Linked DNA regions of Homo sapiens: regions 2, 3 and 4 are each linked to region 1. The links come from fine-mapping of genetic effects on gene expression. A gene starts in region 1. Each other region holds a variant in brackets. All regions are shown on one strand. Distances are between the middles of the regions. Region 1 holds the start of PRRG3 (proline rich and Gla domain 3). Region 2 has its middle 79 kb from the start of MIR4330. Region 3 overlaps CD99L2 (CD99 molecule like 2). Region 4 overlaps FATE1 (fetal and adult testis expressed 1).

The links.
Region 2: its variant is fine-mapped to the expression of PRRG3 in cerebellum (GTEx, PIP above 0.99).
Region 3: its variant is fine-mapped to the expression of PRRG3 in hypothalamus (GTEx, PIP 0.93).
Region 4: its variant is fine-mapped to the expression of PRRG3 in minor salivary gland (GTEx, PIP 0.93).

The regions. Positions count from the first base shown.
Region 1 is chrX:151,689,770-151,697,673 of GRCh38, reverse strand. It overlaps PRRG3 (proline rich and Gla domain 3), which reads right to left and starts at 2,216. Exons shown (of 4, transcript NM_001372163.1): 1 at 2,130-2,216.
Region 2 is chrX:151,085,000-151,092,903 of GRCh38, reverse strand. No RefSeq gene overlaps it. Among named protein-coding and RNA genes, the nearest start is that of MIR4330, 79 kb to the left of the region's middle. The variant G/A (reference allele first, on the strand shown) is at 4,458.
Region 3 is chrX:150,797,800-150,805,703 of GRCh38, reverse strand. All of the region lies in intron 4 of CD99L2 (CD99 molecule like 2), which reads left to right. Among named protein-coding and RNA genes, the nearest start is that of CD99L2, 97 kb to the left of the region's middle. The variant C/T (reference allele first, on the strand shown) is at 3,947.
Region 4 is chrX:151,720,409-151,728,312 of GRCh38, reverse strand. FATE1 (fetal and adult testis expressed 1) reads right to left here. Exons shown (of 5, transcript NM_033085.3): 3 at 6,812-6,918; 4 at 6,332-6,410; 5 at 5,119-5,685. The coding sequence ends at 5,554. Among named protein-coding and RNA genes, the nearest start is that of FATE1, 8.3 kb to the right of the region's middle. The variant C/T (reference allele first, on the strand shown) is at 3,743.

The DNA.
Region 1 (7,904 bases):
CCCTCCTTTTTGCCTAGGCTGCCAGGAAGTTCAGCGTCACTATTGCCAGTCAAGCACAGGCACCCTGGAAGCCCAGCTGTTAAGCACATATGCTTCTGTCCTGCGATGTGGTATACAGCTTTCTATTTATGTTTCCAGTGTCCTATTGTGCATTTATAATATGCCACCTAATCCTTTTGGCAAACAGGTAGGATATAAATCAATAATTTAGGCTGGTCGCGGTGGCTCATGCCTATAATCCCAACACTTTGGGAGGCTGAGGCGGGCGGATCACCTCAGGTCAGGAGTTTGGGACTGGCTTGACCAAAAAATGGTGAAACCCCATCTCTACTACAAATACAAAAATTAGTTAGGCATGCTGCGGTGCATGCCTGTAGTCCCAGCTACTCTGGAGGCTGAGACAGGGGAATCGCTTGAACCAGAGAGGCGGAGATTGAAGTGAGCTGAGATTGCGCCACTGCACTCCAGCCTGGGTTACAAAGCCAGAAAGAAAGAAAGAGAGAAAGAGAGAAAGAGAGGGAGAGAGGGAGAGAGGGAGGGAGAGAGGGAGGGAGGGAGGAAGGAAGGGAGGGAGGGAGGAAGGAAGGAAGGAAGGAGAAGGGAAGGGAAGGAGGAAGGAAAGAAGGAGAAGGGAAGGGGAGGGAGGAAGGAAGGAAGAAAGAAAGAAAGAGAGAAAGAAAGAGAGAAAGAGAGAAAAGAAAGAAAAGAAAATTAAAGGTAAAACAGCAGATCTGACATCTATTTGTGGAAACGCCACATCAAGGGGCTTTCTCTTTTGAACCCTGCAACAATCTCCCTCAAAACTATCAACATGTGAATTTGTCAACAGATGGCCTGCCTTGTGAGACAGTTGGCCCTCAATGTTTGTCAGAACCAAGATGGAATATGATCTCAAAATTCTGCTTGCATTATGGATACCTGAGCTTTATGTGGTGAGGGTGTGGATATAGTATGCCTCATGGCAAGGATTTTTTGCTTGAAGAAAAATGGAGCTGTTGTATCTGGGTTTGAGAAGAATGCATATAGTCTTAATAAGGGAAGAGAGAAAAATATGCTTATCAAAGGAAACTGCAGTGGTTTTTTAAAAAAATGGAGAAAAATTTACATAATAGATTACATATATCCATCTTTTGTCCCCCACACACCTAGCCTTGGTCAAAGGTGGCTATATGTCACACCTATCATAGACCCGAATACATGTTATCCTGACGCACCTGCTAAAGTCACCAGTTCATTTTTAAGCTTCAGTCGAGCCAGGAACACCCCCAAAACAGTTCCCATGGCATGGCCCACTCCATTAGCAATTCTGTAGCCACCTTCACTGCTGCTGCTGCCTGCCACGAGGCCTCTTCCCCCTCCCTCCCCAAAATGTAGCGCCTGCTTCTTCCCCTATAAATACACCATCAGTAGACAGTTACTATGGCAACAATAAGGAAGCAATCGTGAGGGCTCCACGACAAAGAATGATGCTGCAGCCACACATGTATATGTCCCCCATGCCCCTGGTGGATACTGTAAAGCTGACTGTAGGCGGAAGGAATTTTTAACCCACTCCCCGCAGGAACACAGCTGAATCCTGACAGCCTGGAAAGGAAGGAAGGCAGGGAACTGGCCACCACAAAGACCTTGCTTAACTCCACCCCAGACTGAAGCTTCTGAATCTCAGGCCTCTGGGACACAACTCCCAAAGTCCCTCACATGAAGCCTGGTGACCACCAGAGCACCTGGTGTCCCAAGACATGGCCTCCAAACCACTTCTCCAAACCCTAGACTTTATTTCCATCCCTCAGAACTGATCGCCAGGAAAGGGTTCTCCAAATCGCATGACTCATCGACCCACCCAGTGACACGACAACTCCCAAATTATGCTCAAACTCAAACTCTGGGGCCCCCTTGTCCCTTTCCACTCAGGCCAGCCCTGAAAGTGCCTGTCCTCGCCCACCTTCGCTGGACACCAGCGCCCTGACCCAGCAACACTCTTCTCCCGGAGCTGTTCAATACGCCCCATCCCCTTGGCCCGGACAGGCCTCTAGATCTTCCCTCCTCAACAATGCCCTGCACCCAGCTCGTTGGCCCTGGATACCGAACCGTGCCCTCGGGACTGGGACACCCAACCCAAATGGCCTCACCGTTCTCCGGGCCCAGAAGGCGGCCGCCCTGTTTGCGCACGCAGCCCGCCACCTCGCTGCTGCGCCTCTTCCAGCAGGGGCCCTGTCCCCGCCCACCTGCTCCCCGTCGGCCAAGCCCCCCGGTCCGGCCCAGCCGTCTCCTCCCTCCCTTCCTCCCCTCCCCGCTGCCCTCCCACCGCCCCGGGCACCCTGTCGCCCGCCCCTCCAGGGCCGAAGTGCGCCTGGAACCCCCGCCCCTCGCAGCCGGGCGCCCAGGCCCGGCCCATTACCTCGGCACCCCCCTGCCTGCCCCTGCTTTCCTCTGGGGGCTCCGCAGCTGCCCGCCCCCCACACCCCGCCGTTCCAGGGCTGGCCTCGCGCCCCGCGCCTCGCGCGCCACGACCGCAGTGCCCCGATCGCCAGGCCGCAATCGTCGCGCTGCCCCGCGCACCGGGCCGCCGGCCGCCTGGCCGAGTGGAGGAAGGAGGGGTGGGGGCGACGGAGTGGGCCGAGGGGGTTGGGAGAGCGGGCGGGCAAGCCGGGCCGGAGGGGCGGCGGCGCGCACCGAGCACCGCGCGCCCGCGCCCCACTCTGCCGGCGCCGCCCCTGCCCCCGCCCGTGCCGCCGGGGGGCGGGGCCTGACTGGCGGGCCTGGGGCACACAGAGGACCCTTGGTCAAAGCCCTGGTCCAGTCGTGACCCAAGGCGTGGGCCCTCGGAAGATACGGCGTAGCAGGGAGCTCCGGCGGCCGCTCCCAAGGCCCGCGCGCCAGGCGTCCCTGCGCAGCCCAACCCGCGTCCTGTCCCCACCCCCCGGGCTCACCTGCCATTCAGGCCCGCCGGGCTCCTGGGGCCAACGAAAAGAGAGGGGGGCTAGCCTGCAACCTAGGCCTGCCTTGCCAGGGATCCACAGGGCCCTCAGAAGAAGGACCGAGTCGAGGCCGCGTTCCGCCAATGACTGGGTGACCTTGGCTTCTTCACTTACCTACCCCCACCCTGCCCCGGGAAGGCAGGCTTCTCTCCTGCAAAGTCCGAGAAATGGGGAGAATTCTGCCTCCCTCGCGAGGCTGCAGCGATTTGAAGGAGGAAATGGGTTTGGAAAACTCTAAGGCTCAGTAAGGGGAGAAGGAATCTTCTGCGACTGCAAGGAGCGCTAGATGGGGGCTCCTTCGGAGGCCGCACTGTGAGAAGTTCAGCATGGCAGGACAAGACGCATAGCAGAGATTACACTAGTCCAGGAGGAACCACATGACAGGTCCACTGCTAAGAGAGGGGCAAAGGGGTTCCGGGTGGGCTGAGGTTCTGGGTCTAGGAAAGCCTCCCTCGGAGAAGGGGATGCTGGGTTTTTAGGGTTCCTTTTTGTTCTCTGCACATCTAGAACCCGGCCAGGCACTGGGGTTGGCGTCCTCTTCCTCCCTCCACCCCAAGTGTTGCTTTTGATGGGAATGAGTCTCAGAAGGCGGTTCCAGAACCACTCCCACCCCTATCCCAGGGCGGGTATTAGCAACCTGCCTTGCCAGGGGGCGGAAGAGGGGTGGGCGAAGGCCTTCATTGCCACCGGCCGCCTCCCCTCCAACCCCCAGGGCCTGGCTCCCCTAGCTCCCCCGATGCCTGCCTCTACACTTCTCTCCCCGCATGGTGCTTTCCCTTCCATTTCTGCCTCCTGTTAGAGTTCTTCCCTAGCTTGCTTGCTATTTCACGGCTGCAGGAATCTTCCTTACCCACGACAGCTCTTCTATGGCCTTCCCCCCATGCCTCCGGAGCCTGTGGGGCAGAATTCCACAGACTCTTCTGGAACTAACCTCTTGAGTTTCCTAGCCCACCAGCATGTTCCCATCGTGATCTTAACACCGCATAGACCCTTGTGCACTTGACTGTTAAAAAAGCAGCTCTTCCAGTATGTGCACAAGGGTCTATGGCTTCTGCCCTCCTTCTGGCACTCCCACTTTAGCTTCTGGCTCCAGCCACATGAGGCTACTTCTACTTCCCACTGCCCAGAATGCCTTTCCTCCCACTGTGGACCTGGAGCACTTGCATTCATTCTTCCCACACAGTGCGCATGACATCTCTACTGTGAGGTCTTGCAGGATCCTTCCTGCACCCCAGTCCGCCATTCCACTCTCAGGACTATCTGCAGAGACTATGAACATGGGGGCCTCGGTGGATAGCAAGGTGGGGGAGGAGGAATAGCAGTGCCTCTGGAGCGTAGTGCCTGCTGCACCTCTTGGTGGTACTACATAGTAGGCTCTATTATCTCCAGCAAGTGTTTGACCTCTCTGCATCTCGGTTTCCTTACCTTTCAGATGAGAATGATGCTAACAGTGCCTGCCTCAAAGCGTTGCTAAGCGGGTAGTGGAGCTAATCACATAGAATGTGCCTGGCGCTTAAGTGTGAGCTTAATGCACATCAGCTGGCCTGCATCCAGCTACCTTGTGTTCATTTGGTAGCTCACTTACGTGCACACTTGCCTCCTCTCTTGGGGCCAGGGACCTTGTCTCTTCCTGTGTCCCTACCATCTCGCACAGAACCTCATCCACAGCTGGTGCTCTCTAGAGACTTGTCAAGCTGAGGCTGGAGGGGCTGGGGCTGAGAAGGCCTCCATTGCCTTCTTACCTGCCCCCATTTCTGTTCCGGCAGAGCCGGAATTGTGGGTGTATGACCCATGGAGTCAGACAGGGCCCTGTGCTTAAGAGGGCTCTGGACACCTGGCTCAAGGCTGTGCTATCACCATCTTGAAATTCTAATGCTTTTTGAACAAGAGGCCTTCATTTTCACTTTCACTGGGTCCCACGAAGTATGTAAGCCATCGTGCCTATGGGTGGCATTTCCAATATCCCCGATCCTATCCCAGGTAACAGAATTCTCAGTCACCCACCACTTGTGATTCCTCACCTTCTCCCCTCTGCAAGCCTTGACCAGTTGCCTCTTTCCTCATGTCTCATCACCACCAATTCCATTACCTTCCTCCACATTGCCCCTCCCCAGCCCCATCCCTGTGCCTCACCCTTTGGCTAAGAGGAGCACTCTCTGACAACCTCATTTACTCCCAGAGTTTCACTCTTTCCCCAACACTCATCCATTCCAGAATTGAATGGATAACTTTATCTGAGCTCTGCTGCTCCCATCCTTTTATGTCCTGACTGAGCCTAAGCATTGATCCTTACCCTGTAAGAGACTCATTCCATCTCTGCAAACCGATCAACAAGTTAATCAGGTGTCATGGATTGAGTTGTGTCCCTCTGCAAATTCATGTTGAAGTCCTAATCCCCAGTACTCCAGAATGTGATCATACTTCGAAATAGGGCCTTTAAAGAGGTTATTAAGGTAAAATAGGGTTATTAGGCTGGGCCCTAATCTAGTGTGACTAGAGTCCTTATAAGAAGAGGAAATTAGGACACAGGCATGTACAGAGGAATGACTATGTGGAGACACAGGGAGAGTGTGGCCATCCACAAGCCACCAAGAGAGGTTCAGGAGAAACTGACCCTGCCCACACCTTGATCTCAGACTTCCAGCCTCCAGAACTGGAAGACAATACATTTCTATTGTTCAAGCCACCCAGTCCACAGTACCTACTTTGTTAAGACAGACTGAAACAACTCCTACATCAAGCATTTACTCAGTGATACTACGTGCTATCCACTGTTCTAGGACTTGGGATTACAGAAGCCAAAAAATTAAATAAAAACTCCTAACCTCATGGATATTAGACACAAAAAAAAGAAAAACAAGTCAAAGATACAGGATGCTAGATGGTGATTGGTGCCATGAAGAAAAAGTGAAGCAGAGATTTCAAATAAGGTAGTCAGGAAATGTGCCACTGAGAAGATGGCATTTGAACCAAGATTTGAAAGAGTTGAGGGGCCATCCTATTCCAGGTTGGGAAATTCACAAGTGCGAGAGCCCTGGGAGCAGAAGCTTAGCATGTTCTAGGGTTAGGCAGGAGGCTAGTGTGCTGAAGTGAAGCAAGCCAGAGAGGAGGATGGTAGGCGACTAGGTCAGAGTAGTTAAGATGGGGGTAGCAAGAGATCATGCAGGGCCTTGTAGACCACTGTCAGGACTTTGGCTACTAGTCAGAGTCATGTGGAGAGACAGTGAGGATTCTGAGTCAGTGGTTACCACGATCTGATTTCTATTTTACAACAGGCAATGCAGTGGAGGTGGTAAGAAGCAAGCAGATTCAAGATTGATTTTGATGGAAGAGTCATTAGGGTTTGATGCCAGTTTGGAGTTGAGCTAGGACAGAGACAGAAATCAATTATGGCACTAAGGTTCTCAGTCAAGGGAACAGGAAGGATGGAGGCCCTTTAACTGAGATAAGAAAAACAGTGATGGAATGGGTTGTATAGACGTGTGTGAAGTTCAGGGGCAATATCAAGGCTGGAGATATAATCACAGAATGAGTAACATTTCGTTCATATTACAAGTCATGAGACTGGATTGGATCCACAGGATAATGAATGTAGAGATAGCAAACCAGCCCCAGAACGAAGCCCCAGGCAATCCTACATTTAGACGAGGAAAAGCCAGCAAGGGAGCCAGTAAGGAGTGATGTTGAGGCAGGAGGGGTGCAGCAACACGTAGAGACAACTGCAGAAAGTGTATCAGGAAAGAGGCGGTGAGCAGCTATTCCAATCCTACGGACTGGACAAATAAGAAGAGGACAAAGAATTGAGCATTATGTCTGTCAATGTGGAGGTCATGAATGTCTTTACAGGGGCCATTTCCAGGAAAATGTGGAGGGACAAGAGTAGGAAAAAAGGAATTGAAAACAGCGAGTACCCAATGATTGACAAGTATTGTAAGGAGTTTTGTTGTGAAGGAGAACAGAGAAGCTGGGGTTGGGGGTGGTAGGGATATGAGAGGACAAGATAGAAGTATTTTTAAAATATGAGATAAATTCCAGCCCTGTAACATGTTTGTATGCTAATGAGCCAGTAACGTGGGAAAAATTGGTGATGCAGGAGGGAGAGACACAGATGTAGGTAGGTGGGAGAGGCGATGGCAGAGCTTGGAAAAGTGCTCTTCTGATGGCTTCTATTTTCCCAGTGACACAGAAAGCCAAGCCACCAGTTGGGAGTTGGGGTGAGGGATGTCAGTGGTTTGAGGAGAGAAGGCTTGAAATAGTCGTCTTCTGGGAGCCAAGAGAGTGGATGTTCTGTGGAACTGTAGCGTGATTTCTGGGCTGCATGGAGGGCCCACTTGAGGGTTGATGGTCATTATTTTAAAGTGAAACTACTCAACATATGTGCATGGCTTTCTCCAACCATATTCAATTGTTCTTGTGGATATTTAGAGTAGGTAGAGTTGGATTTCATCAGGGTTGGGGTTTTGCCAGATGAGTACAGGGATATAATGGAGGGACACAGTAGTTTTATGTGGATTCAAGGGAGAAATGATAATGATTGACCATGGATTTTAGGCTGGGTAAGGAGGGAGATAAGGACAGAATCAGGGTTTGGTGAAGGAGAGTGAAATCAACAGTAGAATCTTTGGTTTGAGGGTCCCCACAGGGGTCAGAGGACTGTCATAATACTAAAAGGAGTGAGCCGGTGGTTGGAGAGCTGGATACATGAAATGGAGGTTCTGGAGAGATGGTGGTTATAGATGTCAACCAGGTCTTAGGATGAGTGTAGAAGGAAGTGGCTGAGGTAGAGAACAGGGCAAAAGCACCACTGGAGAGTAGGTCAAGGGAGTAGGAGATCAGAGTAGAATTACCTATGCAGATATTGAAATTACCAAGAACTTTGCCATCCTCCCACCCACACACACCCTGGATCCCAACCTACACATAAGC
Region 2 (7,904 bases), 600 kb after region 1:
ATTTTTTAAAATGCAGTCAGAGCTACAGCGAGATGATATTTCAGATTCCTGAACCCATTGGAATGATTTTTTTTTCAGATTTTCTTCCCTGGAATATTGTCATCATAGCAGTAACCTCCCTGAGCCCTGCTCATCCTCCTAGCCTTCACTACCCAGGCCTGTGAGTCAGGCTCCTTTCTCTGATGCTTTTGCCACCACTGTTTGCTAATTTTCCAAGAACCCTGCTTTCACCTGCTAAAAGGATCCCACTCTGCCCTGCCCTTCATGATATTAGGGTAATTCCTGCTATCTGCTTGTCTGCTCCCCTCTTGGATCACCCTAACCAATGGCAAAGGAAAGCGCATAGTTACTGGTTGTATGAATATTTCCAGATATTTACTCTATTGGTTTGGGGGTTTCTCACACTTCAATTTATTATCCTCTTATCAGCAGCTCCAGCTACTGGGCCTTCATTATATATTAATTGCCAGTGCCAATTGTCATTATTTTTTATATTAAAAATCCATCTATAAACACACTTCAGCAGCTCCACCACCTCACCATCATTGCTCATTTAATCTCCCTCCTCCTCTATTAGAGCAGCAGGGGGCTAACCAGAGCAGGAGACACTGGGGCTAATCAGATCACTAGTTTGTCTGAACATTAAGCTCAACAGGAACTCAGTAGGATGTACTAGGTCAGGTAAGGGCAGATTCAATCTTCCACCAGCTCTGAGGACCAACAGCGGAGGGACCTGGAATCAGAGACAATTAAAGGATGAACCCCAGCTTGAAGGGGCTGATGGTAAAGACTGGGTGACTGTTAGGTGGGGTGGCTATAACTGAGGGCTCTGTGAAGGCATGATTTGATGAGAAGAATTTCCTGGCTTATGCAACACTACTCATCATCTGACCTGTTCACTCACCATTTCTCAGAACTCCTAATGCAGGGAGCAGTGGTAGAAAATGTGTTGGCCAGCAAGTTAGGAGACCAGGGACTTGTCTGAACTCTATTCCTAAGTGTGATTCTTGGAAAACTCCATAACCTCTCAGGGTATCACATTCTTCAACTGGGGGCAATAATCCCTACCTTGCTGACACCTCAGAGTTTTGATAAGGGCCAAATGAAAAAAAAAAAAAAACTTCAGTGAGTATGTATTACTTGTTAAGCACTACTTTAAGGGAGTATTGTTCTTTGCACTTTGCATGCATTAACTCCTTTAATTTCCTCAGTAGTCCTATAAGGTAGGTACTATCATGGTCTCATTGCACTGATGGGGACATTGAGGCACAGAGGAGGCAAACAATTCTCTCAAGCTCACTTGTGTATGTGGCTGTTTCACATACACATGAACAGCACAGTGGTGTTCAGCCACTGCACTGTTCAACCACCCCTAGTCTATAAAATCAAACTCTAGTCTGGCTTTCTTAACTGGAGTCTTTCTCTACCTTCTCATTCTGAGCCCTGGCTTTCACCCGCGTATCTTGGGAGCCCCTCACCTAAGAGTAGGAGAAGGGTAAGCATTCTCCTCATTCTATAGTGCTTTGCTCAGGCCACTGTTCTGCCACCTGCATGTAAAACCCCCTAATTTTTAGCCACTCAGTCTATCTAGTTGGTTCCACCACTCTATTTCCCTCCTGGTTGCCATCATCTAATGACCTCCTAGTCATGGCGCCTCAGTCACTGGAGATTTAGTTTACTGTCTTCCTCCTACTCCAAAGCTGGACTATCCTTTTGGGTGACTTTGGTGTCCAAGAGGAACCTAGCCATAACTGTACCAGTCATAGTTCAGTCAGGAAAGCAGAGCCACTGTGGGGATTCTGGGAAATCCGACTTTGCAAAAGGGTGGGAAGAGCTGGGAAGTGAAGGTCCAGAAGAGAGCATTGAAAGATCAGATCAAGAGTTACTAATGACTCCCCCTAAAGCACTGGTGTGGTGGACAAGTCAGGGCTTGCAGGAAAACATGGAAAGTTAAGCACGTTTAGCTGTTTAAGTCAATGACAAAGAGGAGTTGTGGGACAGTCTATGAGAAACTGCTGCCTCTATGTGGCTATCACTTCTGTGGACCCACAACCAAGGGCCTAGTAATGAGCCTAAGGCCACTGTTGAGGAGACCTGAATTTGGAAGAGAGGAAAGCAAAGAAACACTGGAGCCCTCTTCATACCCCTGCATCTGCCTGTCACCATATATGGCCATGAAGACTTTCAAGGAGTAGTGGGCCCTGCTTCATGTGCCAGCCATCTCATTTCAGTAAACTTCCCTCCCCACTCCTAATCTACCCCTTCCATAGTCATGACCCAAATGTACTGATCCTCTGAAATTCCTCATGTAGTCATCACATTTTCTGACCACAGCCCCTTACCTTTACCTATCTCACCTCTTAAGTTGCTCTCATTAAGGTCACCAATAGTCTCTTTGTCATTAATTCATTCAACAAACATTTGTTTAACTCCCACTCTGTGCCAGGCACTGTATTGGATGCTGGAATACAATGGTAAGGAAAGACAGATCAGAACCCCTTCTCAGCTGGGCACAGTGGCACACACCTATAGTCCCAGCACTTTGGGAGGCCAAGGTGGGAAGATCGCTTGAAGCCAGGAGTTTGAGACCAGCCTAGGCAACATAGGGAGACCTTGTCTCTACAAAAAATTTAAAAGTTAGCCGGGTTTGGTGATACACGCTTGTAGTTCCAGCTACTTGAGAGACTGAGTGGGAGGCTTGCTTGAGGCCAGAAGCTCAGGGCTACAGTGAGCTATGATCATGCCACTGCACTCCAGCCTGGTGACAGAGACAGACCCTGTCTCTGAAGAAAAATAAAAAGAACCTGTTATAATAGACTTCTAGTCTGATGGGAAAGATAGATATCAATTATATTATCCCATGAATAAATGGAGAATTGCAACTGAGAAAAGTGCTCCGAAGGAGAGATAAGTACATGGTGCTATTAAGGAGTAGGATGGGAGAATCTGTCTGAATCAGGGAGGTCAGGAAAGGCTTTCCTTAGAAAGTTATGATTGCACTGAACATCAAGAATGAGGAGAAGGGCGGGGCACCGTGACTCACGCCTGTTATCCCAGCACTTTGGGAGGCCGAGGCAGGTTGATTACCTGAAGTCAGGAGTTCGAGACTAGCCTGGCCAAAATGGTGAAACCTCGTCTCTACTAATAATACAAAAATTAGCTGTATGTGGTGGCACATGCCTGTAATCCCAGCTACTCGGGAGGCTGAGGCAGGAGAATCGCTTGAACCCGGGAAGTGAAGGTTGCAGTGAGCCGAGATTGCACCACTGCACTCCAGCCTGGGGAAAAAGAGCGAAACTCCGTCTCAAAGAAAAAAAAGGGGGGGAGAAGTTAACTAGGCAAAGATGAGAAGGAAAGCATTTCAAACAAAGGGAACAATGTCTGCAAAAGCCCTATAGCAAGATCAAACAGGATTGGATTTATTGGTAAACTAGAAGAGGGCCAACACAGAAGTGCAAGGTGAGAAGTATGGCTGGAGGTATACACAGGAGCCAGAGCTAGATGCCAACATGCCAGAGCTAGATGCCACACAAAAGATTTCTGCCTGATTCCTAAGAACTGTGGGAAGTCATAGAGAATTTTAAGCAGTAATTTGAAATCATCTGATTCACATTTTCAAAAGATCACTTTGGCTGTAGCATGGGGAGTTCTTGGAGCATGCTACAGTGGAAAGGGAGAGGTCAATTAGGAGGCTACTGTTGTTGAGGCCAGAGATAATGGTGGCTAGACTTGGGGTGGTTATAGTGGATATTGAGAGAAATTGGTGAACTTGAAATACACTATTTTGGAAGTAAAATTGTCAGAATTAGGTGATGAATTCGATATGGTGGAGATGGAGACAGCAAGAATGACACTTGGATTTCTGGCTCTGCAATTGGATGAATGTGGTACTATTCATTGATATAGGGAACACTGAAGGAATATAAGGAGAAAGAGTAGGGAGGAAGATCATGAGTTTGATTTTGAGCATGTTAAGTTTGAAGGGCTTTTGTGATATCCAAGAGGACATGTGTTCATCAAACCATAAGTTTATGGGTCTGGAGCTCACAGGAGAGGTCTGGGCTGGAGGTATAGGCTTGAAAGTTGTCTATGTACAGGGATGACTGAAGCCATAGATGGCTGAGACTGAAAATTTAGAGTAAACACTAGGAAGAGGAGAAGGTCTTAGGCTGTAACTTAAGAAACTCTTTGTTTAGAGGTTGACTAAAAGAAGACCCTGCAAAGGAGCAGTTGGAGCAATAGAAGACAAACCAGAAGAGTGCTGGGGACTGGAAGTCAAGGACAGAGCGGGTTTCAAAAAGAAGGCATGTGAGCGAAGAAAGATAAGGATCAAAAGTGACCAAGGGATTTGGTGACACAGAGAGCCTTGGAACCTTAACAGAAACTGTTTTAGTGACATGATAGAAAAGGAAGTCAGATCAGAGTGAGGTGAGGAATGTGTGGGAAGTAAGAAAAAG[G/A]AGACAGCAAGTGCAGACAAGATTGTTGGCAGTTTTGATTGGGAAAAAATGACTCATATACATACATATTGATGAAGCTTATACAGAGAAAAGCACAGGGAAGATATGGGCTTGGACATGGAGACCTTAACCATGCTGGGATGAGGGAGTGTGGAGTGAGGCATCAGATTTCAAAAAAGTCGGCATAGAAGTGCACTATGAAAAAAGAGTTTTGGTTTGAGACAGGATGTGGTACCCAGTTGATTGTGTTTGAAATGACACTTTTTTTTTTATTCATGTGTTTATCCAACAAATATTTATTGAGTGCCTACTCTGTGCCAAGCTATTCTAGAACTAAGGATACATCACAGAACAGAACAAGCAAAAGCCTCTCTTCTTACAGAGCTGGTGCTCTGGTTGGAGAAGACAAACGGTAAGTAAGTAAAAGATAGAGTATGCCAGATGATAAGTGCTACGGAGAAACTGGAAAGGGAGCAGGAGCACAGTTTTAAATCGAGTGGGTCAAAGAAGGACTTTCTAAGAAGGTGACATTTGAGCAAAGACTGGCATATGATTAGACAAAGAGTGTTCGAGCCAGAGCGATCAGCAAATGAGATCACATGAGGCAACAGTGTGTCCAGCGTGTTAGAAGGAAACCAAGGAAGCTGGTATGGCTAGAGTGTGGTGAATAAGAGGGAAGTGAAGAGAGATCTGTCACAAAGGAGACAGTGAGCCATATCAGGTAGGCCATTGTAGGAACTTTGATTACGTCGTTGAAGGACTTTCCATAATCTGGCTTATGCTCTGAAAGGACCCTTCTGGTTGCTGGGGTAGGAATAGATGATGGAGTGAGAGATGCAAGGGCAGAAGCAAGGAGACCATTTAGCAGATTAGTAGAGTAACCCAGGCTAGGACTGATGGTGGCTGGTACCAGGGTGGTGGTCATGGAGGTTGTGAGAAGTGGTCAGAATCTGGATATACTGTGAAATTATTAAAGTCAACAAACTGTGTTGGATTGGTCAATGGATTGACAAGTCAATGGGTTGGCTGTAATAAGTGAGGAAAGAGGCAAAGACTTCAAGGTCTGGGGGCTTGATCAAATGGAAGAACAGAGTTGCCATTTACTAAACATACAGCAGTAGCATGTTTGGGAAAAATACCAAGAAAGTGTTTGGCGTGGATCTGTTCTTTGAGACGCTACCAGACAACCCAGTGATGGAGTCAAAGAGGTAGCTGCAGACAGAAGTCTGGAGTTCAGGGGAGACTTCTGGACTGAAGATAGGCATTTGGGACACAGCAGCATTGGGTTGTATTTAAACTCAGGAGATTAGGTGGGATCACATAGAACATAGTAAGGGAAGAGCACAAAGACTGGTTGCTGGAGTCTTTCAAAATTAAGAGGACAAGGTTTACACCCAGAAGAATTGGAAACAGGGATTCAAATAGGTATTTGTATACCAATGCTCATTGCTGCATTATACACAGTAGCCAAAAGATAGAAACAACTCAAGTATATATCAACAGATGAATGAATAAGAAAAATGTGGATATACATACATTATTCAGAAACAAAAGGTCGAGTAACGATCCACACTGCAACATGGATACACATGAAAAACATGATGTTAAGTGAAATAAGCCAGTCACAAATGATCACATATTATTATATGATCCCATTCATATGAGGTCTTCAGAATTGGCAAATCGATAGACATAGAAAGTAGAATGGGAATTAATAAGCACTTTTATCAGAGGGGGGAGGAGATGGAGAGTTATTGCTTAAAGGGTATAGGGTTTCAGTTTAGGATCATGAAAATGTTCTGGAGATGAACAGTGGTAATGGTTGCACAACACTGTGATTGTAATTAATGTCACTGAACTATATATTTAAAATGGTTACAATGGCAAATTTTATGTTTTATATATTTTAGCACAATAAAAAATGTAAAAAAAAAAAAAAGAGGAAAAGTTACAGGCTGATGAGGAGGAGCCAGCAAAGGATACTGAAGAGAAATAATCTGTAAAGTACCAGGAAAAACCAGGAGAGAGGAGTGTTCTGGAAGCCATTGAAGGGTGTTTCAAAGGAAAAAGGAGTGAGCAACCGTATCAAGCGCTGCTCAAAACTCAAGTAAGATGAAGACTGACATTTCACCATTGATGATCCTCATCAAACAAGTTCATTCTAAAATGCTGCTCATCTGCTTGTCATTTCAACGGAAACATGAGCCATCATTTGTTTTTACCCTGAGTTAGTAATCTGAGTCAATTCAATGCTTCCAAAGCCTTCTTCACCCTTTCATATCTACACACTTTTGCGAGGGATTTGGAATTAGCCATAGTGGAAATCTCACCTCTCCCACTGATGAGCCATGTGACCATATAACTTTGGGTAAGCCACTTCTCTGAGCCTGTGAGTTCTTCTCCATGGTAAGTAGGCCCCTCTTTTGCACACTTGCTATGTGGATGGACCTCTCTGAGTGGTCAAAAACTGTGAAGATATTTGCATCTCATGTGAATGCTCAACAAAGGGGAAAAGCCCCTTATAAAACCATCAGATTTCATGAGAACTCACTAACACGAGAACAGCATGGGGGTAACCACCCCCATGATTCATTTACCTCCACCTGGTCCTGCCCCTGACACGTGGGGATTATTACAATTCAAGGTGAGATTTGCATGGGGACACAGAGCCAAACCATATCAGTAGCCATAGGCTCAATGACATTAACCACTAGAATGTGACCACCTTGGTTTGAGGTTTTGTTCTGTCACTTCTGTCTACGATCCTGGGCAAGTTACTTGATTTCTGTAGGCCAAAATTCCCTCATCTATAAAATGAACATTGTAATAAATACCTAGCTCATGGTATCATGGGGATAACTAATAATAGTACAAAATACTTTGTGGTACTTACTCTATGTCAAGCCCTTCGCAGGTATTTGAATCTGTGATCCTCATGACAACTCTATGAAGTTGGGACATTCTATCAATTTGGACACCGAAGTGTGGAATAAGTGGTTCACCCAAGGTCACCCAACCAGTCAGTGGCAGTGATCCAATTCAAATACAGGTAGTCTAACCGTAGAGCCAGAACAGTTAGCCCAACTCTTGGCAGCCTCCACCTGAGAAGGTGTATGCAGCATGCTCAGCAATATGGCTAGTACATATAAAGTGCAGTCAATGCTGTTTGTTGGTATAGTAAGGGTCAAATGACACTGACTGAGTCTGACCTGAGGGCAGAACAAGAGACTGAACACACATCTCAGGTGATTCTGGAGCACTCCAAGGTGGCTGAGAAAATTTGGTAGGGGAATGGGGTGAGTGACTACTTGAGGCATCTGGGTTGATGGGGTCATAGGTCCAAGGTCTCTGATTTGTGGCACAACCCTGGAGGAGTCCTGAGGTTAAGCTTTCTGACATCCTGGAAGAATAAGATATGGCATCAGTAATTAGTTTGTTTTAGAAGAA
Region 3 (7,904 bases), 890 kb after region 1:
ACAGTATTTCATGGTGTGGACGTACCATAGTTTGTTTAACCATTCGCTTTTTGGAGGTCATCTGGGTTGCTCCCAGTTTTTGACTATTATAAGCACTTACATACACGTTCTTATGTGAATATGACTCTTCATTTCTGTGGGATAAATGCTAAGTTGTGTGAGTGCTGGGTTGTGTGGTTGTTATAGGTTTAGTTTGTTAAGACATTACCAACATATTTTTGTGGTGAGAACATTCAAGATCTACTCTCTTGGCAATTTTTGAGTATATAATATATTATTATTAACTATAGTCACCCTGCTCTATAATAAATCTCCAGAACTTATTCCTCCTGTCTAACTGAAACTTTGCACCCTTTGACTAGCATCTCCCTACTCCCCACCCCAGCCCCTGGCCACCAGTATTCTGCTCTATGCTTCTATGAGTTCAGTTTTGGTTTTTTTTCTAATTTTCTTTGAGTTGTAAAGCTGGGTTGTTTATTTGAGATCTTTGTGTTTGTTTGTTTGTTTGTTTGTTTTGAGTCGGAGTCTCGCTCTGTTGCCCAGGCTGGAGTGCAATGGCGCCATCTCAGGTCACTGCAACCTCCGCCTCCTGGGATTACAGGCATCTGCCACCACACTTGGCTAATTTTTGTATTTTTAGTAGAGTTTTAGTTTTATTTTTATTTTGTTTTATTTAATTTAATAGAGACAGGGTCTCACCATGTTGCCTAGGCTGGTATCGAACTCATGTGCTCAGGTGATCCTCCTGCCTCGGCCTCCCAAAGTGCTGGGATTACAGGCATGAGCCACCACGCCTGGCCAGATTTTCTATTTCTTCTTGGGTCAGCTTCAGTAGTTTATATCTTTCCAGGAGTTTGTCCATTTCATCTAGGCTGCCCAATTTATTGGCATACTTTTGTCAATGATATTCCCTTAAAATCCTTTTTTATTTCTATTAAGTCATTAGTGATATCCTCTCTTTCATTTCTCATTTCAGTAATGAGTCCTCTCTCTTTTTCTTTGTCAATCTTGCTAAAGGTTTGTCAATTTTGTTGATCTTTTCAAAAACCATCTTTTGTTTTTATAGACTTTATTGTTCTTCTGTTACTTATTTCATCTGTTTCTACTAGAGATGGGGTTTCACCATGTTGGCCAGGCTGGTCTCTTGGCCAGGCTGTTCTCGAACTCCTGACCTCGTGATCTGCCCACCATGGTCTCCCAAAGTGCTGGGATTATAGGCATGAGCCACCGTGCCTGGAGAGATCTTTGTTTTTTGTTTAGGTTGGCATTTATTGCTATAAAGTTCTCTCTCAGGACTGCTTTTGCTGCATCTCATAAGTTTTGGTATGTTGTGTTTCTATTTTTATTTGTCTCAAAAATTTTTTTGATTTCCCTTTTGATTTCTTCTTTGACCCGTTGGTTGTTCAGGAGAATGTTGTTCAATTTCCACACATTTGTGAATTTTCCAATTCTCTGTTCAAACTTCTAGTTTTGTACCATTGTGGGTGGAAAAGACACTTGATATGATTTCAATCTTGTTAAATTTATTAAGACCTTTTCTGTGACCTAACATGTGACCTATCCTGGAGAATGTTCCATGTGTGCTTGAAAAGAATGTGAATTCTGCTGCTGTTGGATAGAATGTTTTGTGTATGTCTGTTAGGTCCATTTGGTCTAGAGTGTTGTCCTGGCCCGCTGTTTCCTTATTGATTTTTCTGTCTGGATGACTTGTCCATTGTTGAAAATGGAATATTTTCATCTTCTTAAACAGGTCTTTTACAGAGGAAATGTTTTAATTTTCACAAGGTGGATGTATCAATTTTTCTTTTTATGAAACGTGGCTTTGTTGTCAATTGTGTGAACTCTTTACCAAGCTCTCAGTCCCAAAGATTTTTTTTATGTTTTCTTTTGAAGTTTCATAACTTTATATTTAAGTAAAGATGATCATCCATTTTGAGCTCATTTTTAATAAGGTGTGAGGATTAGGTTGAGATTCATTGTTTTTACCTATTGATGCCCAATTACTCCAGCACCGTTTGTTCAAAAGACTATGCTTTATCAAATTGCTTTTGTACCTTTATCAAGAATCACTTGAGTGTATTTGGGGTCTTTTTGGGCTCTTCATTCTGTTTGATTGATCTGTCTGTCTGTCCCTCTGCCACAGTCCTGATTACTATAACTATAAATTCAGCTTTAATATTGGTTAGAGTGATTTGTTCCACTTTATTCTGCTTTGTCAAGTTCTTTTAAGGTTCTTCTAGGGCCTGTGCCTTTTCATATAATTTTAGATTAAGTTTGTCTTTGCCTAGTCTAGAAAAAAACTTACTGGGATTATGATAGGATGTGTATTAAACATAGATCCATTTTGGGACAGTTGACATTTTTACTTTGTGGAGTCTTCTAATCCATGAATACGGTATGTCTCTCAATTGATTTATGTCTTCTTTGATGTCTTTTCTTGAGAACACTGTAAATTTTGGTATAGAGGATCCGGTACATGTTTAAATGTATGTTTAAATATTTTCTTTTCTAGCCGGGCATGGTGGCTCACGCCCGTAATCCCAGCACTTTGGGAGGCCGAGGCGGGCAGATCACGAGGTCAGGAGTTCGAGACCAGCCTGACCAACATGGTGAAACTCTGTCTTTAATAAAAATACAAAAATTAGCGGGGTGTAGTGGCACGCATCTGTAATCCCAGTTACTCAGGAGGCTGAGGCAGGAGAATTGCTTGAACCCGGGAGGTGGAGTTTGCAGTGAGCTGAGATCTCGCTATTGCACTCCAGCCTGGGCGACAAAGTGAGACTCTGTCTCAGAAAAAAAAAAAAAAAAAAAAAAAAAAAAAAAGGCTGGGCACGGTGGCTCCCGCCTGTAATCCCAGCACTTTGGGAGGCCAAGGCGGGCAGATCACGAGGTCAGGAGATCGACACCATCCTGGCTAACACGGTGAAACCCCGTCTCTACTAAAAATACAAAAAATTAGCTGGGCGTGGTGGCAGGTGCCTGTAGTCCCAGCGACTCAGGAGGCTGAGGCAGGAGAATGGCGTGAACCTGGGAGGCAGAGCTTGCAGTGAGCCAAGATCACGCCACTGCACTCCAGCCTGGGCGACAGAGCGAGACTCTGTCTCAAAAAAAAAAAAAAAATTGTCTTTTCTTTTTTTTGAGCCTGAGTCTCGCTCTGCTGCCCAGACTGGAGTGCAGTGGTGTGATCTTGGCTCACTGCAGCCTCCACCTCCCTGACTCAAGCAAGATTCTCCCACCTCAGCCTCCCAAGTAGCTGGGACTACAGGCACATACCACCATACCTGGCTAACTTTTGTATTTTTAGTAAAGATGGGATTTCACCATGTTGCCCAGGCTGGTCTCAAACTCCTGAGCTCAGGTGATCTGCCCACTTTGGCCTCTCAAAGTGCTGGCATTATAGGCGTGAGCCACCGTCCCATCCTAAATATTTTCTTTGGAGCAATTGTGAATGGCTAATTTTGGGTTTGATATGTTCACTGCTATGATATGTGATCAATATTGTTGAACTTGTATCCTGAGACCTTGCTGAACTCACTTATTCTAGAAATTTTTTGTAGATTTCTTGGAATTTTCTATGTACATGATCATGTCATCTGCAAATAGAAACATATATAGTTCTTCCTTTCCAATCTGTATATATTTTTTCATATTGCAATGCTAGACATTTCAGTACCATATTAAATAAGAGTGGTAAGAGTGATGTCCTTGGTGTTTCAGACCTTAAAGAAAGAGCATTCAGTCTTTCACCATTAAGTCTGACGATAGCTATAGGTGTTTTCTAGATGTTCTTTATGAAGTTGAGATAGTTCCCCTTTATTTCTAATTTGCTGAAAGTATTTTTTTTCCATAAATGAGTGTTAGATTTTTTCATGTCCATTGATATGTGATTTGTCTTCTTTGGCCTGTTGACAGGGTAGATTACGTTGATTTTCAAGTATTGATCCAA[C/T]TTGCCTGACTGGAATAAATTCCATTTTTCATGCTGTTTAATTCTCTTTATACATTCTATTCTGTTTGCTAATATTTTGTTGAAGATTTGGCATGTAAATTGATGAGAGACATTAGTCTATATGTTTTTTTTTTCTTTAATAAGGTCTTGATCTGGTTTGGCTCTGTGTCCCCATCCAAATCTCATCTCGAATTGTAATCCCCAGGCATCTAGGGAGGGACCTGGTGGAAGGTGATTGGATCATAGGGATGGTTCCCCATGCTGTTCTCACGATAGTGAGTGAGTTCTCACAAGAGCTGATGATTTTTAAAGTGTTTGGCAGTTCCCGCTTTGCTCCTCTCTCTCTCCTGCCACCTTGTGAAGTGAAGAAGATGCCAATCTCCCTTTTGCCTTCCACTATGATCGTAAGTTTTTTGAGGCCTCCCCAGCCATGAGGAACTGTAAGTCAATTAAACCTCTTTTCTTTATAAATTACCCTGTCTCAGGCAGTATCTTTATATCAGTGTGAAAACGAACTAATACAGGTCTTTATCTGTGTTTGTTACCAGGGTAATACTGGCCTTACAAAATGAGTGGGGAAGTATTTCCTCTTGTCTCCTTTCTGGAAGAGATTGTATACAATTGGTGATAATTCCTTTTTAAATGTTTGGTAGAACTCTCCAGGTAAATCACCAAGTCCTGGAGGTTGAGGTTTTGTTTTTTTGGGGTTTTTTTGTTTTTTTTTTTGAGACGAAGTTTCACTTTTGTTGCCCAAGCTGGAGTGCAATGGCGTGGTCTCGGCTCACTGTAACCTCCGCCTCCCAGGTTCAAGCAAATCTCCTGTCTCAGCCTCCCGAGTAGCCGGGATTATAGGCATGCACCACCACACCCGGCTTATTTTATATTTTTAGTAGAGACAGGGTTTCTCCATGCTGGTCAGGCTGATCTCGAACTCCTGACTCAGGTGATCCACCCACCTCGGCCTCCCAAAGTGCTGGGATTACAGGTGTGGGCCACTGCACCCAGCTGAGTTTTTTATTATTGTGGTAAGTATACATATAAAATCTACTGTTTTAACCATTTTTAACTGTATTATTCAGTGGTACTTAGTAGACATTTGTCCCTCCTTTAGTATTTGCTGGGCATTGGTTCTGGGACCCCCTGCAAATACCAAAATCCTTTGATGTTCAATTCTCTGATATGAAATGGCATAGTATTTGCATGTAACCTACACATATCCTCCCATATAGCTTAAATCATTTCCAGATTACTTATAATACCTAATACAATATAATGCTATGTAAATAGTTATTATACTGTATTTTAAAAATTTATATTATTTTTATAGTTGTATTATTTTTTGTTTTTTGTTCTTTGAATATTTTGATCCATGGTTGGTCAAACACATGATTCTGGATGTGGAACCTATGGATATGGAGGATCATCGGTATTCACAATGTTATGCAGCTGTTACCATGATCATTTCCAACAGTTTTTCATCAGCCCAGCTAGAAACCCTATACCCCTACAACAGTAACTCCTCATTTCTCCTTACTCCTAGCCCCTGGTAACCTCTGCTATACTTTCTGTCTCTAAGAATTTGCCCATTCTAGGTACCTCTTATAAGCAGAATTGCACAATATTTGTTCTTTTGTGTCTGGTTTATTTCACTTAATGTAATGTTTTCCAGGTTTATCCATGTTGCAGCATGTACCAGAGTTTCTTTCTTTTAAGCCTGAATAATATTGCATTATATGTATATACCATATTTTGCTTATCCATTTATATGTTGATGGCCATTTGTGTTGTTTCCACCTTTTGGCTGTTGTGCATAATGCTGTTAGGAGCATTGGTGTACAGATTTCTGTTAGAGTCTCTGCTTTCAATTCATATGGGTATGGACCTAGAAGTGGAATTGCTGGATCATATGGTAACTCTGTTTCACATTTTGAGGAAGTACCAAACTGTTTTCCACAGCAGCTGCACCATTTTACATTCCCACCAGCAATATACCAGGGTTCCAATTTCTTCATGTCCTCACCAATACCTGTAATTTTTCATTTTTCTTTTAATAATAGCCATCCCAATGGGTGCAAACTGGTATCTCATTGCAGTTTTTATTTGCATATCCCTAATGACTAGTGACACTGAGCAGCTTTTCATGTGCTTATTGGTCATTTGTATATCTTCTTTGAAGATATGTCTATTCAAGTCCTTTGCCCATTTTAAAACCACTTTTTTGGTTTTTTTCCTTTTTTTTTTTTTGAGACAGGGTCTTGCTTTGTCACCCAGTCTGGAGTGCAGTGGTATGATCTCAGCTTACTGCAACCTCCATCTCCGGGCTCAAGCAGTCCTCCTACTTCAGCCTCCTGAGGAGGTGGGACTACAGGTGTGCCACCACACCTGTCTAATTTTTGTGTTTTGTTGTTGTTTTTTTTTTTTTGGTAGAGACAGGGTTTCACCATGTTGTCCAGGCTGGTCTTGAACTTCTGGACTCAAGTAATCCACCTGCCTCAGCCTCCCAAAGTTCTGGGATTACAAGCATGAGCCACTGTGCCTAGCCTTAAAATCAGGGTTTTTGTTGTTGTTGACTTGTATAAGTTCTTTATATAGTATGGATATTAATCCCTTATTGGATGTAAGATTTGTAAATATTTTCTCCCATTCTTGTGAGTTATCTTTTTACTCTCTTGATATTGTCCTTTGATGCACAAAAGTTTTTAATTTTAGGCTGAGCATGGTGCACATGCCTATAATCCCAGCACTTTGGGATGCCAAGGCAAGTGGATGGCTTAAGTCCAGGAGTTTGAGACCAGCTTTGCCAACATGGGGCAACCCTGTCTGTACAAAAAATGCAAAAATTAGCTGGGCATGGTGGTGCACGCCTGTAGTCCCAGCTACTCAGAAGGCTAAGATAAGAGGATCACTTGAGTCTGGAAGGCGGAGGTTGCACTGAGTGGCATGATTGTGCCACTGCACTCCAGCCAGCCTGGGTGACAGAGTGAGACCCTGTCTCAAAAAAAGTTTTAAATTTTGATGAAGATCAATTTATTTATTTTGTTTTTGTTGTTGATGTTGCCTGTGCTTTTGTATCATATCCAGGAAATCATCATCAAATCCAGTATCATGAAACTTTTTCATAATATTTTCTCCTGAGAGTTTTATAGTTTTAGCTTTTATATTTAGGTCTTTGAACTATTTCTTTTTTTCATGCCACCATGTCTAAGAATCTTCTATCTATTTTGAGTTAATTTTTGTATGTAGTATAGGTCAGGGTCCGAAGTCATTCCTTTGCATGTGGCTATCCAATTTTCCCAGCACCATTTGTTGAAAAGACTGTCCTTTCCCCGATCGAATGGTCTTGACATACTGTTGAGAATCTAGTGACCGTATATGCAAGGGTTTATATCTGGGCTTGCTTTCTTCCTTCCTTCCTCCTTTCCTTTCCCTTTTCCTTTCCTTTCTCCCCTTTCCCTTCCTTCCCTTCTTCCCTCCCTTTGTTCTCCCACCCTCCCTCCCTCCCTCCCTCCCTTCCTTCCTTCCTTCCTTCCTTCCTTCCTTCCTTCCTTTCCTCCCTCCCTCCCTCCCTCCCTCCCTTCCTTCCTTCCTTCCTTTCCTCCCTCCCTCCCTCCCTTCCTTCCTTCCTTTCCTCCCTCCCTCCCTCCCTTCCTGTGTTCTGTCCTCCTTCTCCTCCTTCTTCTCCTTCTCCTTCTTCTCCTTCTTCTTCTTCTTTTTTTTTGACGGGGTCTCATTCTGTCGCCTATGCTGGAGTACAGTGGTGTGGTCACGGCTCACTGCAGCCTCCACCTGGGCTCAAGCAATCTTTCTATCTCAGCCTCTCAAGTAGCTGGAACCACAGGTGCACGCCACCACACCTGGCTAATTTTTTGTATTTTTTGTAGAGATGGGATTTCACAATGTTGCCAGGCTGGCCTTGAACTCCTGGGCTCAAGCAGTCCACCTGCCTCAGCCTCCCAAA
Region 4 (7,904 bases), 31 kb before region 1:
GTGGCCAGGGCTGGTCTTGGCAGTTTTGTGGCCACCATGACACCTGCAGATCAACCAGGTACATATTCTGTCTGCCACATGCATGTGTCCAGTCCAAGCACTAGTGTCCCTCCCTCTGGAGAAGGTGGTCACTGATGAGTGGTACTAAGGAGCAGTTGGAGGGGGCCCAGCTATGCAGAAAGAGGGGCCCAGGGACCCAGCTACTGGCAGGATGTCTAGAGATGAGGCTGCTCCAATACTAGCTGCCTCCTATGGCCACAGTCTCACATGGACGGAGCTTACACTTGCCACTCTGGGCTCAAGCTGAGATGGATGCAAGCTCAGCTGGGGAGCCCAAACGGGGTACCAGGCCTGAAGCAGCCCTGGAAGCCTATCTCTGCCCCAGGCCTGCTGCCTGGCTCCAGAATCTTCCCTCAGCCAGAAGCTCCAAGGGCTTCACCCCACATGCATTTCCCCAAATGGCAGAGTGGCTGGCTCCCAAGCCTGAGAGGCCTGAAGTGGGTGATCCCCTCTAAGGATCTCCGAAAGAGGTCAGGGTACAGTTCAAAGAGCCAAAAGCAAAGGCTGCAATCCCAGCATGGCTCCTGGGAGAAGCCCACATAACCCACACCCCTACCTCCACTGCTACTCATATGCAGAGAGCCACAGGCTCCAAGTGAACACTGCCCGTGCTCTGAAGCTGAGGGGCCCAGAAATGCTCGGAGTCAGACAGGCAGTGAAGGCCTATGGGTTCCCCCCTTCCTCCCACTGAAGCTTGCCTGTCGGGCAGGCCCTCCGTCCCTCTGCTCCAAATCTGCTCCAGCAACCCTCCCTGCCACCCTCCTGGGAAAGGACAAAGTCCCAGCTGCTTCAGGACAAGCTTTGTGTGGCACTCAGGGCCTCCACCCTCCTAGAGCCCCAAATAATTTCTTTGGCTGCTTTAACAGGGGACAAAGTTTCCCAACACAGCCACTTTCCTCAGCTCCCTCGGCAGATGACACATATGAAGACCCATGTCAAGCCAGGTTCTAGGGCCCACGCACTTTTCACGGACTCCAGTTCTGTACCCCCATGGAGGTAACTGGCCTGTGGTCACAGAAAGGTATCAGCCCAAGGTCAGCCGCTTTCCTCACCAATCAGATGGCTTCAGAGGCAGGGGCTCTCCTGGCCAGTCAGCATCCGTTGGTCCTTCTGCACAACCTCCAGTCAGAGACAAACCACTGGGGGCTCATCGGCATCTGGAGCTAACAGAGATCTCCTGCCATTCCTGCCCCTCAGGCCAGCGGGGCCCTTGAGCCCCTGACAACTTAGCTGCAGCCTCGGGGTCAGAGAGCTGCCCCACCCTGCCTGAGGCCAACAGGAGAAGCTGGCAGAGGCCAAGAAGAGCTCATGCTCATGGCTAAGGCAAACTCAAGACGCTGCCCCAGGGTGTCACCTGCCCAATGGAGAAGCTGGCCTGTCTGTGGGCACTGTACACCCCAGGCTGTTGGCAGGCGAGGGCTGGGTGCTGGGCTGCCTGGCTGTAGAAGCTGCTTGCCTGCCCAGATCCAGAAGCCAGCCCCTCCCAAGCTCCCTGAGGAGCCCTGCCTTGCACGGAGCATGCTCAGAGCTATGTGTCTGGGGATTCAACCCCACCAGCTCACAGCCCTGGTGTACTTGCCTCCAGACCTTGGCACAATCTCAACCAGTCCACCTGATCTGAGGTCAAGCCAGGGAGAAATCTGAGAGAAGAGGTACCTGGGGTAGGGCTGGCCTGAGGGGAAAATCCATACCTTCTCTGCCAGGTCCCCTGGACTTGGCCTCCAAGAAGGGTTGGGGTTAGGGAAGGGAAACAAGGCAAGACCCTTGGGGCAGTGAGCTTTGGGCTCCTTTCCAAGAAGCCAGGATTTCAGGCTGCTCCTGGGTACACCAGAGTCCCCTCCATGCACCCTCATGTACCCCTCCTCACATGCCCACCTTCCTCTTCCCACCTTCCACCAGCTGCCAGGAAGCCAGCCTGTGACAAAAGAACTGGAATATTGAGTTTCAGCTTTTGACCAGGACTGGCGGGGGACCAGGGGCCCACTTGGCAGGGCAGAGAACTACATAAATGGAGGATTAAAGCTTTGCCCACCTGCGCAGCCAGCTGGGAAGACAAGCCACTCCCTCAGGGGGCTGCTAGGAGGGGCTTAAATGACATCCTGCGTGCAAAGCCTGGGATACATACAGGTGCGCATAATCTGCATGGAACAGCATAGAGAGTTCGCAAGGATACGCACCAACCAAACCATGGGAAATAATTCAGTGGAGGGACTTGGCATTTGGGGTGCAAGGGACTGTGTTAGCTAGGCCTGCAATGTTTGCCTTTTTGGGGAGAATGTGTTCATGCACAACTTGCGTAATTAAATATTTTTAAGATGCAAAGTGCATGGCACAGAGTAGGTGTGCCGTAGGAAGCGAAGAATAGAATTGGCTCCCTTTGGTGGGGAAAGGTTTTCAACAGAAGGCATACCCTAAAGGCCAGGAGGGGAAGACCAGGGCTAGATTCAATCTCTGGGGACCCTAATCAGAGGCCATCCTGCCAGTCCTTTACTTGTTCCAGGAGTGCAGAAGACAATGCAGGCTACCTTGTGCCCTCAAGAAGCTACTGATCCAGTGGAGGACTGATGTGTACCCCTCTAATACTAAGCCTGGGCAGCCCCTGGGAAGCTTCAAAGACTAGAGAAAAACAGCACGCCAGGAGAATCCCCTCCCCCACCCCCAAGTAAGAATGAGTTCCTTCCCTCCTTCATTCACCCACAGCATCCTGCTTCACCATGGGGAAGTTCATGGCTTGCTGGAGGAAGGGCTGGGCTCAGGGTGGAGAGGTTGGGCAAGGCAAGGACAGTTTGGCAGAGAAATGCAATCAGATGGGCAAATGCTCTAGGTGGGTCAGAGCCAGAGGGCCAGGCAGGAGGTGCCAACTTGCCTCCTGGCACTCTGCCCCCGAGCCTCCCTGGATCTCCCAGAGGCTTGGGAATCACAGATGTGCCAGCCCCCACAATATGGTCCCCATGCCCCTTAAGGAACATTGCAGAGGGGCCCAGACTGGGCAGCTCTGACTCCAGTTCCTCTCAGGAGCTTCCTGAGGTCTTCTAGGTGGGGCAGGGAGTTCTAGAGATAGAGCAGGAATGCCCTTCTAGGAACTGGCCTCCAGCCCTGCTGGGAACCAGCCAAATGGTCACACAGAAAGGCAGGGTGGAGGCCCAGCCACGGGCTCCTTATGAGCCCACCTGGCTCAGGAGACGTTCCTCTAGGGCACTGCCGTGCTGTTTGTTTGCAACTCAACTAAATTGCTCCCAAGGGTGAACCTTTGTTTCACAACATATTTTCAGCCAGACTTTTTCTGCAAACATGTCCATGTCTGTGCAGGCTCACAAACACTCAGGTCCCAAAGGGCAGACCCAGCCCTTCCCAGCTGCAGCCTCCTCTTCCTCTGAGCTTCCCTGTGGGGCCTGACTGGGGCCGGAGAAAGGGGCAGCCCGGGGTAGACAGTGTGAAGGCTGGACTCATGGCAGTTGGAGCACTGGGCTGATGGCAAGAAGCTGCACGTGCTGCCCCTGCTCCATCTCCCTGCTTCCCTTAATATTCCTCTGTATCTTGGGTCCTGCTCTGTCCTGAAGCTGCAGGAAGGGGAGGGGCGGCCTGCAAGGAGGTCCCCCAGTCTTCCATCTAGCCCATGGGTGACTCCTGGGGCCCCAGGCCCCATTTGCAGAGGACAGGGAACACCCCTGGTACTCCCTGG[C/T]CCTCTTGGCTCTCCTGGCCAGAAGTACTCATATCTGGGTGCTGCTGTTTCCCCATTCTGCAGAGGGGCTTCCTGTGGCACTTGATTACCTCTGTGCTCTGGGACCAGAGAGAGAATCTTTCTCTCTGGTGTTTCTTTCCTAGGTGTCCTTTTCTCTGCTTTGAGCAGGGCCCAGGCTCCAGGGGCCACGTGCCTCGTGTCCCACAGGGCTGACAGGAGGCCCTGCATCCTCATCTTAGAAGTATTGCAAGCCCTAGAGTGTCAGGCGTGGAAGAACCCCCTCATTGTATAGGAGCCCACTGAGGACCAGAGAGAAAGAGGTGGAGCAGGGACAGAGCAGGCTCTGGGACTCAAGCTTCTCTCTCTCTCTCTCTCTACTCTAACTTCCCTCCCTCTGCCGCTCTGTATCGCTGACTGTATCTCTCTCTCTGCCTCTCCCTTCCTCCATCCTTTCTTCTCTCCTCGCCTCCCCTCCTCTCCCTGTCTCTTCTCTGTCTCTCTCTCTCACATACACAGACACACACGTTCATTTCATACCTAGGGACTAACACGCTTCCCAGTCTTTACAGATGGAGAATCCTTGACAGATTTGGGGGATTAGGGAAGGTGCACTTAGCAACTAAAGCCAATGAGAAAGTTCTGGGTCAGAGACATGTGTGTTGAGCCCTTGGTCCCAGGGAAAGGGGTTGCAGCTCCTCTGCAGGCCTCCTGCACCAGGCACATCTGCACTGTGGTCAGGCCCCCACATGGCAGGCAACATTCTCCACCTCTCAGGCTCAGCCCCACTGGACAGCCCAGCTATTCACCCTGTCTGAGGTGTGCTTCATGGGCTGTGGACCCAGAGTGTGTGGTGGGTAGGGTGAGGGGTATGTGTAGCTCCCGTTCAGCCTCCAGAGCTGAGGCAGGACCTCATCTCCAGTGAGTCTGTCTGCAGGAGGCAGGCCAAGCCCTAGCGTAGGACTCAGGAGAACTCACGCCAGAGAACTCACATCCAGGCCCTGTCTCACTGGATGACCCAGGGACATGTTTCCTCTCTCTGGAATTCAATTTCCTCTTGCGCAAATGAGGTTTCTGGTCCCTTTCAGGAGATTTCCTCTGATTGCTTCCCTGCAACACAGCGCAGACATGCTCCCAGAACCACACCCCCACAAGCACTGGTTTGCATGAGCCCAACAGGAAGAACTTTGCAAAGCTGGGGCTGGGGACAGGGAGGTGGGGGAGGTGAAAGGGAGGAGGGAACCAGGGCCCCTGGGGCAATGGCAGAGGCTCAGTCCCAGCCACAAGGTCTCTGTGAAGAGGAGCTGTTGTTTCCCAGCGCACCCCACCTCCACTGTTGCCCCCAGTGAGTGCTGGACACAGGAACCTCAGCCACAGGGTTTTGCTGCTATGGCTGAACTTTTATTGAGCGTGTTGTCTGTGCAGAGCGCTGTGCACGAGGTGGAAGCAAACGAGGGAGGAAAACAAAGCCACACCCCTGCCCACAGAGGATGGAACAGAAGGGCCGCTGAGGTCAGGAAGGCAAGGTTGCCACTAGGTGTTACTGTGGGGCCCAGATGCCGCCATGCTGTTCACCCTTCAAAGGGTGGCATCTCAGCCCACGCAGTCCTCCTCCAGCTTCGCAGCAGCCAGGACCTCCCAGTGCAGTGACCTGGCCTCCCCAGGTAGGAGGCCTAACCAGAGTTGAAAATGATCCTGACGCTCCTGAGGGCTGCTGGGAGATGAAAGGGGCAAGGGCAGTGGCGGCCTGGGGAAAGAGGAAAGAAAGAAGGGGAAGCAGGGAGGGCTCCAATACGGAGGCCGCGCTGGGGCGATCACTGGTTCATCCACAGCCACAGGTTGGCAATGCTGGCCGACACCAGCACGGCGATGATCAGGGTCTCCCTGTGGCGCCAGGTGGCGCCCTGTTCCTCCAGGGCGCGCAGACGCCGGTTGACTGCATACAGCTGCAGAGGAGTCAAAGGCAGGGCTGCTGAGCGAGGCTCTTCTCCAGAAGCCCACAGCACAGCCATGGGAAAAGCATAAAGTTAGAGCAAGAAGGGGCTTGATTGCCCTTTGGCGGTGGAGCGGGGAGCGCCCCTAGTGAGAAGCAGGAGGCTGGGCCAGGTCCGCGGGACCAAAGACCTGGCTGCTACGTCTGCAGGCCCCACTTTTGCCTTCTCCCTTATGTTCACTTCCCTTCTCTGGAAGAGACCAGCCCATTCCAGCTGCGCCGGGGAGCCAAGGAAGAAAGGATCTCCTCCTAAGAAGGTCTGGGTTTGGTTTGAACAAAGGCGACCCCTCTCTCAGACCCTTAGGTATCACTCTCTCTCTGGACATAGAACCCTTATCCTTGTATGTTCCCTCTTCCTCCACCTTTTATCTGCCCCTATTCCCTACCAGCATCTCAGGGACAGCAGTGAGTTTGAGGCTGGACATCTATGCGGGGTGTCAGAGCCATGGGGATGAGGAGGAAGAGGAAGGGAATCTGCCCCACCTCCAGCGCTAAAGGGAAAGATGACTGTAAGGGACTACAGGACCCCAGCTGTCGAGCCCTGCCTATTCCAAGGCACTGTGATTCTGCTTGCACCCACCGATTGGGTCCCTCCTCACCTGTCTTCTCATGACTTCCATCTCCAGTACATTGAACTCTTCCAGGCTAGTCTGCGCCACTGCATCTGTCCCTGGGTTGCTGGGAGAGAAAAAAGACAGATGGTCAAAGCTGCTGGTGGTCCCTGGCAGGGAGCACAAGAAGGCAGTGAGGTCAAGCAGGTAAGGTCGTGATCTTCTTGGACAGTGACTCTATCAGCCTCCAGTCCTCTTCCATGGTAAAGAGGGCCTAGGGCCTTGAGGGCTGGGAGTCAGCCTGAGCTAGCCTGAGCCAGCCTGGCCCAGCCCAGTCCAGCCCAACTCGGCTAGGCCGCAGAGCACTGGGATGCCCCAAATGGGCAGGGAGCCAGGGTACTCATGGTCTCTGACAGGGAGGCATTCCAGGCCCTCATGACTCCATCCTGGCCAGGCTGCTCACCAGCCCCTCTGCCCCACTCCGGGCCCTGTCTGAGCAGCCAGGGCCCACAGACCCTCAGCTCTTACCGATCATAATGGAAACGTATGCCTTGGAAATTGCCAGCGTACTCCTGGAGATGGGCATCCCCATGGCCTGATTCTCTCAGCATTCTGGGCTTTGGCAGCTGGGACCCCTGAAGAAAGGAATGGTCAGTAAAGTAGCCTGCCCAACCCCACATGAGTGGCTTCTCCAGTTTGCCCAGAGCCAATGGTGCACCCCATGGGGAATCACATGGTGCCTGGTCTCTGGAATCAAGGGCTGGCAGCTTCAGGCCGCTAGGAAAGCTTGGGAACCCCACACAGGCTGCTGGCCACCACCCCACCCACACCATGCTCCTCGGTAGCTCTTGGTCATCCAGGCAGGCTGTGGCAAAAGAGGAGCAGTAACAGGGGTCCCTGTCCTCTGCAAGAACTTTCACATGCAGGTATTAGCTGAGAGGCTGAGCAACCTACTGAAGGAGAACGTAAAACCTTGATTGGCAGCCCAGGCCATGGAGGCCTGGCGAGATGCCTTTACTTTCCAAGGATGCGTGGTAAATGTCAGGGCTAAGGCTAGAACCCTGGCTACTGGGAAACCAGCAACTCCTCTGGGTAAGCTCAGCCAGCCATCCCTGTGGCTTTCATTTTTATCCATCTGCCAACAACTCCCTAGCATGTACATCTCTGGCCCAGAGCCCTTGGGCCAGGGCCATCTGATGCCTTTGAAGCATCAGTGGGGGATAGAGGAAAAGAGCGTGGCTTTTGGTGCCAGACCTGCCTGGGCTCAAATCATAGTTCTAGGTTTCCAGTTCAAGATGAAATGTTTCACAAGCTGCTTATTTAACACACACCACATGCCAGGGACCATGCCATCCTCTAAGCCCTTACCAATACTAAGTGACTGATTCCTCGTCACAGCCCTGTGAAACGGTATCATTATCATCCCGTTTTGAAAGTAGGGGAAACTGAAACACAGAGAGGTTAATTACCTTGTCCAAGTCACACAGCTAGGAAGTAGCAGAGCAGTAATTTGAACCCAGGACATTTCAGTCCAGAGGTTATACTCTCAGCCATTACACTACGATGTCCCTCATATTTAACACTCCTTCCTGTTAAGGCTCCACTAATTGCCAGTGAAGAC